Linked DNA regions of Homo sapiens. The protein of the gene in region 2 purifies or fractionates together with the protein of the main gene of each other region. This does not show direct contact. Each region holds a gene or a part of one and is shown on either strand. Other genes may lie near its edges.

Region 1 (3,500 bases), on a different chromosome or scaffold from region 2:
CTCCCTTTAGGTCCCACAATCTCAAAGATTTAGCTTGTCCAAGGTGGACAACATTTCATAGGACGTACACGTCAATATGCATGATTCATTTACCTATACCTCATGGAGCAAAACAGAGACTCTTGGCCTGGCGCAGTGGCTCACACCTGTAATCCCAGCACTTTGGGAGGCTGAGGCGGGCGGATCACTTGAGGTGAGGAGTGAGAAACCAGCCTGGCCAACATGACGAAACCCCGTCTCTACTAAAAATACATAAAATAGCTAGGTGTAGTGGTGCATGCCTGTAATCCCAGCTACTCAATTTAGGAGGTTGAGGTACAAGAATCGCTTGAACCTGGGACGGAGGTTGCAGTGAGCTGAGATGGATCACGCCACTGCACTCCAGCCTGGGTAATAAAGGGAGACTCTATCTAAGAAAAAAAAAAAAAAGAGAGACTCTTAAAGATGGGATAACTTTTTTTCATTTTTAAAGAAACTGTAGGCCAGATGCAGTGGCTCATGCCTGTAATCTCAGCACTTTGGGAGGCCAAGACGGGCGGATCATGAGGTCAGGAGATCAAGACCATCCTGGCTAACACGCTGAAACCCCGTCTCTACTAAAAATATGAAAAAATTAGCCGGGCGTGGTGGCACGTGCCTGTAATCCCAGCTACTCGGGAAGCTGAGGCAGGAGAATGGCATGAACCCTGGAGGCAGAGCTTACAGTGGGCCGAGATTGCGCCACTGAACTCCAGCCTGGGCGACAGAGCGAGACTCCGTCTCAAAAAAAAAAAAAAAAAAAAAAAGAAAGAAAGAAAGAAACTATAGTGCTCTTTGTCCTGGGATGAACTGGATCCCTCCGAGTGAAGAGACAGCTGGTGGGGGCATTCCCAGCACACACCCCCAGACCCAGGCAGTTAGCTGCTCCCAGGAACCGGGCAGTCACACTCCACCAGGCTACACCCAGAGGTGCCATGGGGAGGCTGATGGAAGTGGTTTTAAGGACCAGTGCAGAAGAAATATCTGGCAATACCAGCACTCCTGCTGACTGTTGCTTTGTCTTTCTCTCAAGGAACTCAAGGGATAAGGTGGACAGAGACAAAGCTGCCATGGTCCAGTGCTCATAACTGAGGCTCTTGCCACAGGTAAAACAGGCAGAGAGCAGAGATTAGGATTAAAAACAGGGGAGGGAGTTGGGGAGGGAGGGCTACAGCACGGAGGCAAGAAGGACAAAACCCTGAACTTGCTGGCTGGATAGAGTCCCAGTGGGACCTGTATGGGGACAAGAAGAGAATGGCACCCTGCCAGTAAGTGGTCCCAGATGAAGAATCCCTGACCCAGGTCCCACCTCATTTAGCTCCAGAGGCAGATCCCAGAACCTGGAGCGATACTGCCCAGGCTGCTCCACCCTTTATTCACAAGTTGGTGACTCTGGGCAATGTCTTGACATCTCTGTAACATGCAGATGGCAGGAGGACCCATGTCACAGGGCCGCTGTGAGGATTAGATTAGTGAATCAGTGTATGGCAGCCCTCAGAACAGAGCCTGGCACACAGGAGAGGCTACAGAAGCACTTGGAGCTGCTGTTATTATTATCTGCCCACGTGCCCTGGTTAGAGGTCAGGGAGCCCTTCGGAAAGCAGCCTGGCCTCCTACAGCCTCTCCAGCGGCTGCCTTCGGAAGCAGAGAGACTTTCCAATGGAAATTCCCTTGCAGCTCTGTGCACAGGTTGCTGGCCCCTGGGGCCACGGACTCCGAGAACAATGCCTGGCTGTGCATTGCCGGCCCAGCCCTCTTCTGAAGAATCCCAGCAGCCAGGCCAGCAGTGTACCAGGAAGCCACACAGTGTGGCAAAAAGCCTGCCTGCCATTCTGCAAACCCCAGAGGCAGGAAGTCGAAGCACATCTGCAGAGGGTCCTCGCGACACCTGGCATGGAGGATGGCTAGCCAGTGTGAGTGGGAAGAATTTCTTTCTCTCAAGGCCTACTTTCAGGAGACTCTCTAGGTCCTTTTAGGAACAGAGCAGATGAGGGCAAACACACATCACTCACACCCACCCCCTTCCCTACCTTAACGCCACTCAGTCGTCCAGTCCCCAAGTCCCATCCACAAAGAGAAGAGCAAATCATTTGGCAGGGGCCCCTGGTATGAGGTGGCTTTGTAACATGAGCTGTGTGTCCGCAAACAACTAGGGCAAGACCATTAAGTTCATTACACCTGTCACTCTGCCAGCTGAGCTTCCAAATTGCCCAGATGAAAGTACATTATGCCCAAGGAGTGCCACCCAGGCCCTCCCAGGCCAGTACAGCCTTATCTATCGTAGACAATTTGTTCTCAGTGTCTGCACCTGCAGAAAGAACACAACTGTAAACAGCTTGAAACTTGGCTTTGAGATACTTTAGGCCCTGGGCAGCTAAGAACAAAGTTGAGGTCTCCTGGGAAGAAGCTAGGTGCCTGATTTCCCTGCTCAGAGGAAGAACGGGAGTGTGGACCAGAGGTGGGGCCAGGGCAGGGGAGGAGGCGGAGCAGCCTAGCAAAATAAAGGACACAGAGTTGCTCCTTGGATTCTACTGCCCTGCAGTAGAGCCAAAAATAAAAGCAAGGCACACCCTTTTCATTTCCGAACCGAGGCACAGAATTCTAGGCGGCAGGCAGAGGCCCTCTGCGCAGCTGCATGCACACCAGGCCCATGAGCGGCGCCCAGCCGGCCGCCGGCTGCAGAGTGCGTTTGCAGTGCAAGCGTGTTGCAGACAGCGGTAATTTATTTATCCCTGTCATGTAACATTAACAATCTGTCTGGAGCTTGGCAAGCACCAACTTGCACTGTCACATAAACTGTCTGACAAACTTAAAGTTTCGTAAATGCTTCTCTTTTTCCAGCAGACAATAAAGCATCCTTAAAAAAAAATAGTTGTCATCTTTTCTGTTCCTTTTCTCTCTTCCTCTTCCAAAAAAAAAAGGAAGAAAAAGAAAAAAAAACCAACAACAAAAGAACCCATGCAAACAGAAATGATCCCTCAGCAGGATCCTTAACCCTGAACAGCTCGACATTTTTCCGATGCCAAGTAAATGAGTAAATAAATGGATGGGGGGAGTGACGTTGTAGGAGACGGTTGAGAAGGGGGTACAGAGGAAAATCTGCAAAACAAAAGTACAGTCATTAAAAATTAATAAAGGGTGTGGACATCCAGACCCCACCCCCGTCTGCTCATGGGGATTGAGCCAGACATTCTGTGTCCTCGTTAAGTGGAGTCTGGCAGGCTGCCGGAGTGTTAGTGGGTTCTGGGAATGCCAATATATTAACCAGAGGACTTTTTGCATACCCTTTAGAGTTTTTATTCTAGAAAAGTCAACCATTTGGCACAGTGCAGCATTATTTTTGTCCGGGAAAGCTCGCAGCTGCCAATCAAGGGAGAAATTATATCTATGTTCTTTGTAATCTCCAAGACCTATCTGGAAAACAAGCTTGGTGGAAAGAAAAGTCTTCACAAAAACAGCTTAAAAGGCCAAAGTACCATTTT
Region 2 (3,500 bases):
ACTTGTCCATTTTATCTATTTTGTCCTACTTAGTGGAATAAAGTTGTTCCCAAAACTCCCTCATTATGCTTTTCATTTCTTCAGATCCTGTAGTGATAAAATCTTTCTTATTCCTGATACTAGTAATTTCTGTCTTCAATCTTTTAGTTCGGGTAGGAATTTATCAATTTTATTAATCTTCTCAAGAATCAGTGTTTGGTTTTACTGACTTTTCCCTGTTTTAGGAGGAAATACACACTGATTTTGATTCTAATCTTTATGCTTTCTTTTCTTCTCCTTACTTTGGAGTTTACTTATTCTTTTTTTCTAGTTCCTTAAGGTGAAGCTGAGTGACTGATATGAGGCCTTTCTTCTTTTTCTATTATGGGCATTCAACATAAAAACAAATCTCCCTACTGCTGTATCTGCATCCCACAAATAGCGGGATGGTGTTCTCATCTTCCCTTAGGTCAACATACGTTGAAACTAACCCTCCTTTTGTTTCTTCTTGACCATGGATTATCTGGAAGTGTATTACTTAGTTTCTAAACATTTGAGGGAATTTCCATATAGAATTCTGTTACTGATTTCTAATTTAATTTCATTGTAGTCAGAGATTGTATTTTACATGATCTAAAGTATTTTAAATGTGTCAATACTTGCTTTGTGGCCTAGAAAATGGTCTTTTTTGATAAATAGTCTGCGTGTGCTTGAATGTCTATTTTGCTGTTCTAGGGTGGTATGTACTATAAATGTCAATTAGGTCATATTGGTTGATGGCATCATTCAAGTCTTCCATATTCTTGCCAAATTTCTTTTTATTTGTTCTACAAATTATTTAGAGAAGGCCATTAAAATTTCTAACTATACTGTAGATTTGTCTATTTTTCCTAAAGTTCTATCAGTTGTATTTCATATTTTTGAAGCTCTGTTATCTAAGTGCATAAATGTTCAGGGTTGCTACATCCTCTTGAAATATAGATCCCTTCTTCATTTAAAAATCCTTGTTTAACCTTGATAATATTCTTAGCATTCAAATATACTTTGATGTTATTACAGTCACACCAGCTTTCACTGACAAGTAGTAGCATCACATGTCCTTTTCCTATCTGTTAACTTTTAACCTCTTCGTTTCTTTATATTTAAGTAAATTTCTTGAAAGTAGCCTATAGTAGGGTCTTGCTTTGCTGTGCAATCTGACAGTTCTTGCTTTTCATTTGTGGTGTTTAGAGCTATATTCGTTTCCTATTGCTGCTATAACAAATTACCACAAACAGTTGCTTAAAGCAACATATATTTATTCTCTTTCAAAGTTTGGAGCTCGTAAGTCTAAAATCACAGTATTGGCAGGACTCCAATCCTTCAGGAGGCTCTAGAAGAAAATCCACTTCCTTGCTTTTTCCAGCCCTAGAAGCTGGCCTCCTTCCTTGGCTTGTGGCCTTATATCACTCCAACTTCTGCTTCTACCATCACATCGCCTTTTTGATCTCTTACTCGTTTGCCTCCTCCTTATAAAGACTTTGTGATTACATTTGTCCTACCTGGATAATAAGGATAATCTCCACATCTCATGAGCATTAATTTAATCACATTTGCAAATTTCCTTTTTCCATGTGAGTAACGTAATTCACAATTTCTGGGAATTAGGACATGGCCATCGTGGGGGGCTCATTATTCAGCCTACCACAAGTCCATTTACACTTAATGTGATAATTGATATGGTTAGATTTAAGTCTGTCATCTCAGTGTTTTCTTTGTTCCATCTGATCTTCATCTCCCTTTTCCACTTCTTCTGCCTTATTTTGGATTGAGTGATTTTTATAATTCCATGTTAATCTTGTTTGTTGCCTTTTGGGTTCTGTCAATTTTTGCTTCATATATTTTGAAATTCTCTTTTAAGTTCATATGCACTCAAATTATTGTATCTTTCTCCTGTACTGAACTATTTTGCATTATAAAACATAGTCATTTCTAGTAATATTCTTTGTCTTAACATCTATCTTCTCTGATATTCATACATTTTTCACTTCAGCTTTTCTAATGTTTACTCACATGATATCTTTTCCATTCTTTTTCCTTCAGCCAATATACATATCTGTATTTAAAATGCACCTCTTGCAGGCAGTCCATAGATAGGTTTTGCTCTTGTATTCAGTTTGCCAATCTCCACCTTTTGTTTGGAAGAATTTAGTCCTCTTTCACTTTGAAATTACTGATATGGTTTGATATAGGCTTGCTATAGTGCTCTTTTGTTTTTTTAAAAAAACTTTTTATTTCAAGACATTTGGAGATCCACATTAAGTGAGAGATAATACAAGTAGCTCTTGTACAGTCTTTAGACAGTGTCCTCCACCATGGTAACATTTTGAACATTTGTATAATATCACAGCCAGATAATTCACATTGACAGAATGGTGAAAGAGAGCATTTCCATCACCACAGAGATCCCTTGTATAGCCACACATACTATACTCCCCCCACATTCCCACCCCACCCTAACCCCTCGCAACCACAAATCATCCATATCTATAATTTTGTCATTTGAAGACAGTTATACAAATGGAATCATACAGTATGTAACCTTTGGGGATTGTCTTTTCTTCATTCAAACAATTCTCTGGAGATTCATCCAGGATCTTGAGTGTATCAATAGTTTGACCCTATTGCTGAGCAGTATTCCATGGTATGAATAGATCACTATTATTTAATCATTCACCTTGCGAAAAACATCTGGGTTGTTTCAGGTTTAGGCTATTACAAATAAAGCTGCTATAGACATTTTTCTACAGAATTTTGTATGAACACAACTTTCCACCTTTCTGGGAAAAAATGCCCAATACAATTGCTGGGTCTTAGGTTAGTTATATGTTTAGGGTTTTTCCCCTTTTACTTTTACTTGACAAGTAATACTTGTACATATTTATGGAGTATAGAGTGATATTTCAATGCATAATTACAATGTGTAATGATCAAATCAGGGTAATTAGGCTATCCATCACCACAAACGTTTACCATCTGTTTGTGCTGGGAACATTCAAAATCCTCTGTTCTGGCTTTCTTGACATATAACGATAAATTACTGTTAACTAATATTCACTCTACAGTGCCAGAGAGCACTATAATTTATTCCTTCTATTTATCTGTAGTTTTGTATCTCTTAACCAACCTCTCCTTATCTTCTTCTCCTCCCTACCCTTCCCACTCAGCCTCTAATTACCACAATTCTACTCTACTTCTATGAGCTACTTCTTTGAGCTTCCACATGAGTGACAACATGGACTATTCATCTTTCTGTGGCTGACTTATTTCACTTAATGTATCCAGGCTTATCCATATCTAGGCTTGCCATTATGCTCTTTTTTTCCCCACTGTTTTATTTATTTTTTGAGTGGTTTTGATAGGGATGACAACAAGCATCTTTAACATATCATGATTTACTTACCATTTAAATTGGGTTATTTCTAGTAAATCGTACATTTCCACAGTTTACTCAATTTTTGTGCTACATGTATATTTAATTT

What was found.
Region 1: the proteins of DPY19L2 (region 2) and LDLRAD4 purify together in Homo sapiens (co-immunoprecipitation; one large-scale study listed by IntAct). This does not show direct contact.

The regions. Positions count from the first base shown.
Region 1 is NC_000018.10:13,221,760-13,225,259, reverse strand, and holds part of LDLRAD4 (low-density lipoprotein receptor class A domain-containing protein 4 isoform alpha 1), read right to left. Parts: intron 1-3,500. UniProt on the Homo sapiens protein: Functions as a negative regulator of TGF-beta signaling and thereby probably plays a role in cell proliferation, differentiation, apoptosis, motility, extracellular matrix production and immunosuppression.
Region 2 is NC_000012.12:63,563,994-63,567,493, forward strand, and holds part of DPY19L2 (probable C-mannosyltransferase DPY19L2), read right to left. Parts: intron 1-3,500. UniProt on the Homo sapiens protein: Probable C-mannosyltransferase that mediates C-mannosylation of tryptophan residues on target proteins. Required during spermatogenesis for sperm head elongation and acrosome formation. Also plays a role in acrosome attachment to the nuclear envelope.